Homo sapiens: one gene and its partner. The protein of the gene in region 1 purifies or fractionates together with the protein of each later gene. This does not show direct contact. Each region holds a gene or a part of one and is shown on either strand. Other genes may lie near its edges.

Region 1 (7,022 bases):
TCACCTGAGGCCAGGAGATCGAGACCAGCCTGGCCAATATGGTGAAACCCCGTCTCTACTGAAAATATAAAAATTAGCCAGGCGTGGTGGTGCATGCCTGTAATCCCAGCTACTCGGAAGGCTGAGGCAGGAGAATCGCTTGAACCCAGGAGACAGAGGTTGCAGTGAGCCGAGATCGCACCACTGCACTCCAGCCTGGGTGGCAGAGTGAGACTCTGTCTGAAAAAAAAAAAAAAAAAAAAAAAGAAAGGAAAAAGCCTGAAGTGTGGAAACAAACCTTTGAATCCTATCTGATGCCATTTATTAGCTGATAACTTTCTGCAAGCCACTTACCTTCTCCCGGTTGCTACTACTTCATTTATAAAATGTAAAAATTGTTTCACAAGGTTGTATCAGGATCAAGTAGATGTGTGTTAATATGCTTTGTAAATTAGAAAATGCAATTATAATTACTCAATTTGAAAGTAATTTTAAAACACAAAAACTTTGATTTACAAAACAAGAAGCATTTGAAGTTATCTGAATAAGTACTGTTTGGAAACTGTACAGTTGTGGAAGATAACACAAGGCAAAACACAGGTACTTACGATAGTAATGATCTTGCATTTCGTGCATTTGCGAAATGTACTCTGCGAACTTTTTGTAAGGATCTTGTACCTGATTTCAGAATACCTTTACGTGGTACATTTGAGGAACGATTCATTTTCCCTCCAATGAAGTAATCTGAAAGTACATAAATTAACCCTTTGAGGTCATAATTTATACTATTACACTGTTTGGACAAGACTCAAGTGCCATATGATTGTTGTACTAATTCTGAATCCTTTAAAAAGGAAGGCATTGTGGATCTCTTAAAGTTGCTTACAGTTTACATTCTTTGTGTACTAAAAATATTATATGGTATATGGAAAAGACAAGTAAATCTATCCATAGCCTTCTAACTGGTCTGTCTCCAGTCTTTTTCTCCTCTTATTCATCTTCCACACTACACCTGGAGTTAACTTTTTAACTCAATAATTCAATCTCCTCACTCTCCAGCTGTCTACCAACAAGCTCATTGAGGGCAGGAGGCATCTTGTTAACTACAGAGTCCTCAGTGCCTAGCACAGTGGAGAGTTTTTACATGTTTGTCTAAAAACGTTTTGTCCCAGTTTTATCACCAAATAGCAGTGAGACTTTGGGCAAGTCACTTAACCTCTCAGTGGTTCAGTTCCCTCCTTGGTAAAGTGAGAGGGTATACACTAAATTTCTGATTCCACCTCCAACTTTCTATTCTTTAAAGCAACGAGTTTGGATGCAGTAATGCTCCAATTTGGATGCAGCTCCCAAATTCTTACTCACTGCTTGGTCTCTGTTACTAAACCAGGGGCTCTTTATCATTTCTTTTGGTGCCATGGACCCCTATGGACAGATCTCTTCTAAGAATTGGTTTTAAAACGCATAACATAAAATACATAGGATTACAAGGTGCTCCAATTATATTGAAATCATCAAAATATTTTTTAAAACAAAATTATAGTAAATGTGTCTTCTTAATGCATTAAATGAGCTCTAATAACTACTGTATTTTTGTAGTAACGAGCATAAATATTTCAAGATCCCTGACATGACTGCAATGTAACATGAAAATATCTGTGCTTTCCATTGATGACAAAGTCATCAATGTTAATACTACTGTGGCTTGTTATCTACACTATAATTGAAAGAAACAAAGTTCAGTTAGAGGTTAGTGAAAATGAAGTTGTCATTTTTTCCCCCATACAAGTTCACATACCCCCTGAATTAAGAACTTCTGCCCTAATTTATCAATATGTTTCACATTTTTATGTATGTGTGACGTTACACTGCTGATGCAGAGAGCCTTCTGAGTCTATTCAGTATTTCTCCTTGGGGATGCCTTGGAATATACAATCCTCTTAAGAAAGAGAAAAGCAGCCCTTAACATCTGGGAGCTAAGCTGGGCTTAACTAACACCAAGGCTGGCAGTCACAGCTGGGCCTTGGTGTTACCACTGCTTCCTAACAACACCCGATCCAGAGCAAAGCTCCTGCTTCCTTGAACTCGCCCCAAAATCACCGAACCAAAGCCCAAATCCTATAATAAATCTAACTCTTTTACTGAAATATGTCACTGTGTTCCTACGTGTGCGTTCTCCTTGCAGCAATGAGAAACCCAATTTCTTCAACTACAGGTGTGCCCCTAGTGGTCTTTGGCTGGAGGGCAGTGGCACGTCACTGTACAAATTCTAAATTTTTCCAGATGCTCGCCTGGATGGGGCTTACACTTTTTATAGGATTAGGGCAGAAATACAGAATGAAATAGGAAATACATCCTCATTATGAGACAGTGCAACAATTGTTTTGGCTAGAACACAGGTTTCAAAGGCAGACTAATGGGTTTGGATCCTAGCTTCCCACTTCCTATGTGGTCTTGTACAAATTACTTCTACGTGCCTCAGTTTCTTCATCTATGTATTGGGAATAATAATCATGCCCACCTACTTCCGTTGTTGGAAAGATTAGATGAATGTGAATAAAGAACTTAGATCAGGGCTGCGCATATCAAAGTGCTGTATCAGTGCTTGTTTACTCTTGTTAATAAGATAATTATTGCCATTATCAGTTACTTCTACAAGTATTAAGGGACAAACATTTGATTTCCAGAGAGGAGGCTTACCGCTTGTTTCTTAACGGGAAAAAATAAGGTCAGAGCCTTTTCCGATTAAAGGACACAGCATATTAGTTTAAATTTAAAACCTGAGAAACCTCAAGTCCTTGGTTAAAACCTTTCGTAAGGTAAATCCAGGCCGCCAACCGGCGGCTTCCGGCTGCGAAGCTTTCGAAGCCGCCGGTGGCCCTCCAAGCGCCCCCTCTCGGCAGCCTCTGCTCACAGAAATCCCAGTACACGCCGCTGGGCGCCCAGTCGCCGCTGCAAAGACAGTTTCCCAGCGCCGCGGCAACGCCAGGCGCCTCCCTCCTCGCGCCTCCGCGTACCGTCCACACAGAGCCGGCGCTTTCTTGCCGCCTAGCAACCGCCGGCGCAGGGGCGGAGCCTCCTGGAGGGCGGGGTTTGCGTTCACCCGCTGCCCGGGCGCGACGCGCTGCGGCTCAGCGACGCGGCTTCTAGAACCGGGTGATTGAACTAAACCTTCGCCGCACCGAGTTTGCAGTACGGCCGTCACCCGCACCGCTGCCTGCTTGCGGTTGGAGAAATCAAGGCCCTACCGGGCCTCCGTAGTCACCTCTCTATAGTGGGCGTGGCCGAGGCCGGGGTGACCCTGCCGGAGCCTCCGCTGCCAGCGACATGTTCAAGGTGAGAGCGTGGAGTCGAGTCACAGCTGTCACCGCCCCCTCCCGGCCGCCCGAGCCCTCCCCGCGCTCTCTTGGGGCCTCTCTGCAGCCAGGCCTGGCTCACCCCGAGGCTTTTCCCGCCACTGGGCCGGCTGCGTCCCGGCCCCGCGGTTCATTCACTGGTCTACTGGGGATGAGCGGCTGCCGGGCGGAGGCGGGAGACCCCCGGGTGGGTGGGGGCGGCCCTTTGGGTTGTGCTTTCGTGAATTAAACACTTTGAAAATTTAAAGTGCCTTCCCCCAAAGTACCCATCCCCTCGGCTAGTACCCTCTTGGGATCGTGGGTAGGGTGAGGCCAGCTCAGGGCACTGTGGGGTTCGCGGCTTTAGTTGCCTGGCAGGGTCAGGTTTCAGAACCTGATGTGTGGATGGGGGAGGGTCATTTTAGGAGAAGCTGTGCAGGGTATGGGGGAGGCTGGGGTGGGATGGCTGGGTGACGAGGGAAGCTGGAGCTTTGCTCCACTCCTCAGGGAACATTATTTAATACGGGCCAGTGGACCCCCTTCCCTGCGTTTTGTGAACTCGTGTCCTTTGGAAAAAAATCGACTTTTACGATGAAGACTTAATTTCGAAAATCTGCACTTTAGCATAAAGCCATTATTCTACTTTTTAAAAAGTAAATTATATGTATTTTGTCATAAAAAATCACAGGCTACCAGAAATTAATCTACAAAATTGAGTCTTCAAGAAGCATAGTACCCATAAAATAGTGCTAATGAAATCTCAGAATTGTACTATTCATTTAAAAGTTTTATTGAGCTCTGCAATGTGCTTTGGGTACGTTAATAAAGGCTGTAAAATCAGAACATGCATTCTGCCTTCTAGTCCTGGCATTGCCACTTTCTAGCTGTGTGACCTTGGGCAAGTCACTGTGCCTATCTTCCTTTGGTGAAGTTGGGGTAATAACATCTACCTCATAGGGTTGTTATAAGGAGTAAGTTGGTATGTGTAAAGCACTTGGAAAAGGCCTAGTATTTGCTCTTACTCTGTTTTCAGGCAGCTCACAGTTTAGTCAGGAAGACAGATCCTATAATCAACATTCATTTGATAAATTTGTGTGTTAAACACCTGTTATGTGCTAGGAGCTCAGCTCCATTTCAGGGTTACAACAAGGAAAGATATGCTGTGGCCAGTTTAACTATATGTGTACCAACAGTGTAGTAAAGTAGTAAAAAGGAGAGCAGGATCCACTTGGCTTAACCAGGGGTTCCTAACCTGGGGCCCTCAGCTCCTCAAAGGATCTGCACATAGATTTCAGAGGATCCCTGAACTTTGATGGGGAAAAAACATAACTATTTTTAGCAATCTCCAATTGGAATTGAGCACTTCCTTTAGTTACGCATATGGGTAATGTCTCAGTTATCTATTGTTGGGTAACAAATCACTGCAAACCAGTGCCTTAAAACAAGAATTGTTTCTCAAAATCTGGGTTGGCTGGGCAGTTCTGCTGGTGACTTGACTGAAAGTTGGCTTCACTCCCATGTCTGGGGGCTTGGTGCCCCTCCATGTGCCTAGGTTGGACTTCCTCACTTGGTTACTGACTTCCAAGAGGGCAAGTCCCAAGGCACAAACACAGCATCATGTTTGCTGATGTCAAAACAAGTCACGTAGCCAAGTCCAGAGTTGATATGGTGGGGAACCACACAAGGTCATAGATATGAGTTGGTGCACTTCGCTGGGGGCCATTCATTTTACAAGTTCCTACTGTAACAAATCACAGTAGTATTAGCAGTACCTGTTACCAGTAGAAGTCACAGTACCAGCACAAGTCACAGACATTTTCATATTACATTACAGTTGTTGCAGATGTCAAAATATCACTTATGCTCATTACTACTTCAGAACTATGGTAGTTATAAGACTCACTGCTAGATCTTTTTGTTTAGTGGGCTAGTAAAGAAGCACATACTGCTTATATCAGATATTTGAGTTTAAAAAATAAGATTATTTCAATATAGTTGGGACTTTTTTGTATGCAATTAGAAGCATTATTTTGAGAAGGAGTCTATAGGACTCACTGACGGCCAAAGAGGTCCACGGCAGAAAAAAAGGTAAGGAACCCCTGGGGACTTCAGAGAAGGCTTCACAGACGGGACACTTAAATTTAGTTTTGAGACAGGTAGGAGTTCTTCAGGTAAAAGGGGTGGGGAACATCAGTGGTATTCCATTGGGGGAAGTGCTGGAAGCTCAGTTTTGATGTGTCAAGGGAAAGACATAGTGAGCTGAGATTATTATTATTATTATTATTGTTATCATTATTATTTTTTTCAGACAGAGTCTGGCCCTGTTGTCCGGGCTGGAGTGCAGTGGTGCGATCTTGGCTCACTGCAGCCTCCGCCTCCTGGGTTCAAGTGATTCTCCTGCCTCAGCCTCTGAGTAGCTAGGATTACAGGCGCCCGCCACCACGCCTGGCTAATTTTTTTGTATTTTTAATAAAGACGGAGTTTCACCATGTGTTGGCCAGGCTGGTCTCGAACTCCTGACCTCGTGATTCGCCCGCCTTGGCCTCCCAAAGTGCTGGGATTACAGGTGTGACCCACCGCGCCCGACTGAACTGAGATTATTTCAGGTGAACATGTACTTTGGGTAGAAAAGATCACAACAAACCTTGGAGGACACCAAAATGTAGGAGTAGGCAGAGGAAAGGGGGAGGCCAGACTTGAGAAGCAGAAGTAGGAGCAGAAAAGAGTGATGTTTAGAAAATCGAGGGAGAAAAGTTTCAAGGAGAAATGGCTATGTTAGGATGCTTTCAGCTGGGAAAACCCAACTGCTTAAATAGTAAGGAAAATTCTCTCACAAAGTCCAGAGGAAGAATGGATTCCAGGCTCTGATTCAGTTGGTCAACAGTGTCAGGCCAGGCACGGTGGCTCACGCCTGTAATCCCAGCACTTCGGGAGGCCGAGGCGGGCGGATCACGAGGTCAGGAGATCGAGACCATCCTGGCTAACATGGTGAAACCCTGTCTCTACTAAAAATACAAAAAATTAGCCGGGTGTGTTGGCGGGTGCCTGTAGTCTCAGCTACTCGGGAGGCTGAGGCAGGAGAATGGCAAGAACCCGGGAGGCGGAGGTTGCAGTGAGCTGAGATCGCACCACTGAACTCCAGCCTGGGAGACAGCGAGACTCCGTCCCAAAAAAAAAAAAAAAAAAAAAACCAGTGTCATCAAGGACCCATCTCTTCTTGGGTTTCCACAGTCAGGTTGGTTTCCTTTAGGGTTGCAAGATGACTACTAGTAACATACACACTTTCTCATTCTCTAGAGCAAGAGGAGGAGGAGAGAGAAAAAACTCCCACACTTGGTCCTTCAGTCTGATTGGACCAACTTAGGTCAGTTGTCTGACCCTGTAACAGTTGTCAGAGGAATGCCATGATCTGATTGGCTTAGACTAAACAGGATCAACCCAGGGTGGCGTCACTTAATCACAGGGGAGAGGAATGCATTCATGAACACAATGGAGTTCTTTTAGGAAGGAAGAGGGAGAATAGAGACTGGATATGCAACCAACAATGTCCATGACGGAGATATAAGCTAGATGAGATATGAGTTAGTTACATATCATGAGTCGTGTTCACTGATTTGGGCACTTTGGAAAGCTTTCATGATCCTTATACTTTAGGTTTACTGATGGAAGTGAAGGGTAGATTAACCTGGGTTGGTGACTGAGGGCCAAGTA
Region 2 (3,972 bases), on another chromosome or scaffold:
CTAGGCTCCAGTGATCCTCCCATCTCAGCCCCTATTTGTAAATTTTTTGTAGAGATGGGGTCTCACTATGTTGCCCAGGCTAGTGTTGAACAGCCTGTTGAACAGCTAGTGTTGAACAGAGGTATCTTTTTTTTTTTTTTTTTTTTTTTTTTGAGACAGAGTCTTGCTCTCTGGCCTAGGCTGGAGTGCAGTGGTACAATCTTGGCTCACTGCAACCTCTGACTCCTGGGTTCAAGCAATTCTCCTTGCTTCAGCCTCCTGAATAGCTGGGATTACAGGCATGTGCCACCATGCCCAACTAATGTTTGTATTTTTAGTAGAGATGGGGTTTCCCCATCATGGCCAGGCTGGTCTCAAACTCCTGGCCTCAAGTGATCCACCCACCTCAGCTCCCAAAGTGCTGGGATTACAGGTATGAGCCATCACGCCTGGCCTGATGTATCTTCTTTGGTCACTTTTTCCTCCTCCTTTCACTCTAGTCATAACATGGCACGGAAGTACATGCAGTTTAGACATTTGTTGCACTCAATGAACAAATCTTTGTTGTTTATTTTAAAATTCAAGACAATTTTTTTGCAAATGCTGATTCAAAACGTACCAATCCCCATCTATCATGCCTATGCCAATACAATCTGTCACAAAAAAGTTTGCTTCTCATTGTCACATAGCTATGGGGACTGGTGGCCTTCTAAAATCACTGTCCAGCTGCTGCAAGTGTGAGGCCAGCAACCCACGGCAGGGATGCAGGAGGGAAGCCATGGCTAAGCTGTGGGCCTGGACAAAGGCCACAGATGGGGTTGAAAGGTGAGAAGCGGTAAGCTAGAGGAGACAGACGGCGTTGCCATTAAAAACAATTCAACTTCATTTTAATGTTGCTATGTAAGTTCACAATAAAATCCCTGGAAGTTCAAATTGGAAAGAGCAGTTTGGGGTCATGGGCTCAACAATATAAAGGCAGATTCAGTGAGGGGTAAGGGTAGTGGCTCTGGGGGCAGACTGACCTAGATTTGAATGCCAGTTGTACCAGACTCAAGACACCTTGGGTAAGTGGTTTTATGAAGTACCTCAGTTCTTCATCAGTAGAAAGAGTGCTAACACCTCCATAAGACTTTTGTATGGATTGAGTAAGATAATGCATGTTAAACCACTTGTATAGTTTCTGGCTAACTGTAAACAAGATGTTCTAGAAGTTCTAGTTATCTTTTTTTTTTTTTTTTTTTTTTTTTTTTTAAGAGTCAGGTTCTCACTGTGCCACCAAGGTTGTAGTGCCGTGGTGTAATCATGGCTCATTGCAGCCTTGAACTTCTGGGCTCAAGTGATCCTCCCACCTCAACCTCCTGAGTAGCTGGGAATACAGGCATGCACCACCATGCCTAATTTTTTAGAGATGGGGTCTTGCTATATTGCCCAGTCTGGCCTCAAGTAATCCTCCTGCCTCAGCTTTCTGAATTGCTGGGATTATCGGCATGAGCCACTGTGCCCAGCTAAGCTGTGACTTTTGAGGCAACCCCTTCCCTTCCACAGAGTTTAGTTTCCTCATTTGTAAAATGAGGACAAACCTAGATATTTTTGGAAGTTTCTTCCAGTTCTAATTGCCTATGATCAGATCACATCTGTTGCAGAGCTTCCTAAAAAGCCTGGAAAAATGCAACTCTGCCCCCTGGTGGTTTGCAGCTCTCTATTCAAGATGCTATAAATCCCTCATTGGCTTCAAGACCTCCCTACCATTTTGGTTGCTGTACACTGAAGCCTCACTGGATTGCATGGTGGCTTCCCCAAATTCCGTATGCCTTAGGATATGATGCTTGGCACACAGTTTTCCTTTAGTGCTCCTTTTAATAATTTTATTAGTATGGCCACAAGTTTGATGTCTACAGTACATGTTAACATAGCTGAGTACAAATATTTGAAATAAGTGTGGCAAGTTTTAAAATGTCAACTCTGAGTTATCATGCATGTCCCATGCATTTACATCTGCATCTGCAAACTGTACAATTCAATCTGTGCTTATCCTCACTGGGTCTCCCTGTGTGCCTCAGCTAGGGCAGGGCAGGGGCTCTTGTGCGTTTTTTCAGACCCAGATTTTCAAGAGCAACAGTGTTGAACTCTGGCATGCCATGGTGCATGGTGGCAACACCGGGTTTAGCTTTGGTTCAGGTAAAAATGCAGTGACCAACTATTGCATTTGTGTGAGTCACCTGATTCCCCAGGGCCTGGGCTAGCACAAAGGGTATTTTGATATCCCTGTATGAGGCCCCTGGCAGTTTCTGAACCCGTTTCGTCCCACCGTGAAAGTCTAGAAGTGAGGTTCGCAGTCTTCTACCATGCTGTCAGTGATATAGCTGGAACCAAGATGGGATTCGTAGTAACTCTTTTCATCAAAGGTATTAACAGTCCAACCAACAACCTGGATTCCTTTAGCTGACCACTTCTTCAAGTAGGCCCTGGGGAAAGAGGAAAGCCAATCCTGTTAGAATAATAAGCAGCTGTCTCAGGAATCCATAATGGCCACTAAGTATGGTGTTCACTGCATACCAATGGTGCCCAGAGAATGCCTCCTAACTGGCCTCTGCACTGTGATCAGAGGGACTGTTCCAAAACCCAGGATGCCATGAACCTCCTCTACACTGTCCCAGCTTAAAACATTTCAGTAGCTCACTAATGATCGCCACCCCCAAATGTCCTTGGCACAGCCACTGAAGGTGTGCCTGACCTGGCCCCGACCTGTCTCCTTGGCTTCATCTCACACCACATTCCCCCTTTCTTTTCTGTGCTGATTAATTTTAAATTAATTGAAAGAATATTAATTTTCTTTCACTTCCTGGAAAGAACCATGTTCCTTCCTGCCAGAGCACATTACATGTATTTTTCTCTCTGATCTGGATTCCTCCCAATTCCCACTCACCCTTCAGATCTTAGCTTAACTGTCACTTCCTTGGGGATGCTGTTTCTGACAACCCAGACCAGATTAGATTATAGCCCATGCACAGTTTTCTCTGACATAGCCTGTATCTTAGTTTTAACTTTATATTGATTGGATTTTTATTTGATTAGCATCTCTCACTCTCCCACTTGGCTATAAACGTCACGAGGGCAGAGATCATGGCTTTGATTCTTTACCCACTGCATCTTCAGCTTCTCAACATGGAACCTTGCAATAGTATAGGCACTTACCAAATATTTATTGAACTGAATCATGTATGTCTGAAATAATACTAGACCTACAACTCTAATTAGCTGAAATATACAGATACAGAATTGCCAAAGAAATGATTCCGAGATCGCTAGCAGGTTAGGAAATGGAAATTTTATGGGGAGAGGTGGGGGAGTGCCTATAACATAAGACGGTAGTGGGGAGGCTGGTGCCCACAGGATGTCTTCACTGTGGTTCTGCCCAGGATCCTGTGTTGGCTTTCAAAAAAACCAGTCACAGAAATAAAATCCCTTGCTCAGCATAGTGTCACAGGTTCATTTTTTTTCTTCAAAATACACTAAAAAACCGAAAATATGTGATCGACTCGGTCTGAAAACAGTGAAATATGCCTGAACTCTTCCCACCTAAGAAGCGAAATTGGTAATCCAATTTAGAGGTATGGTAAGCTTTGCAGGTCAGAACCAATTCAGGTTGTCTACTCTGTTAATCCTTCCTTTCAAATAAGAGCATTCAGGATGTCTGTCTGGGTAAAATAAAAAACCTTCCAACTTACGGGGATACAAAATCCTTTTGCATGAGGAAAGCTGAAATTCCACACAGGTACCACAAGATATTATGCATGCTCCAATCGAGCAAAATGTCCATCATAACAAATATAAAATGTTTCCAGAAAGTATCATAGCGTGGTTTCCCATCTCCTGTATGGCTTAGGCTCCAAGGTCTGTGAGTTAATGCTGTTATTACATCCCGATCTGTTTGTCTCATCTGCAAAGGAATTTGGGGAAGTAAAATAATGATCATATGTAAAGTTGAATACT

What was found. The genes of interacting proteins can lie anywhere in the genome.
Region 2: the proteins of CXorf58 (region 1) and GDE1 purify together in Homo sapiens (affinity purification with mass spectrometry; 3 studies listed by BioGRID and IntAct, with this or other methods). This does not show direct contact.

Annotation. Positions count from the first base shown.
Region 1 is NC_000023.11:23,903,984-23,911,005, reverse strand, and holds the start of CXorf58 (uncharacterized protein CXorf58), read right to left. Parts: upstream 3,001-7,022; 5' UTR 2,677-3,000; intron 724-2,676; 5' UTR 704-723; coding exon 588-703; intron 1-587.
Region 2 is NC_000016.10:19,501,174-19,505,145, forward strand, and holds the end of GDE1 (glycerophosphodiester phosphodiesterase 1), read right to left. Parts: intron 3,920-3,972; coding exon 3,708-3,919; intron 2,445-3,707; coding exon 2,297-2,444; 3' UTR 520-2,296; downstream 1-519. UniProt on the Homo sapiens protein: Hydrolyzes the phosphodiester bond of glycerophosphodiesters such as glycerophosphoinositol (GroPIns) and glycerophosphoethanolamine (GroPEth), to yield a glycerol phosphate and an alcohol.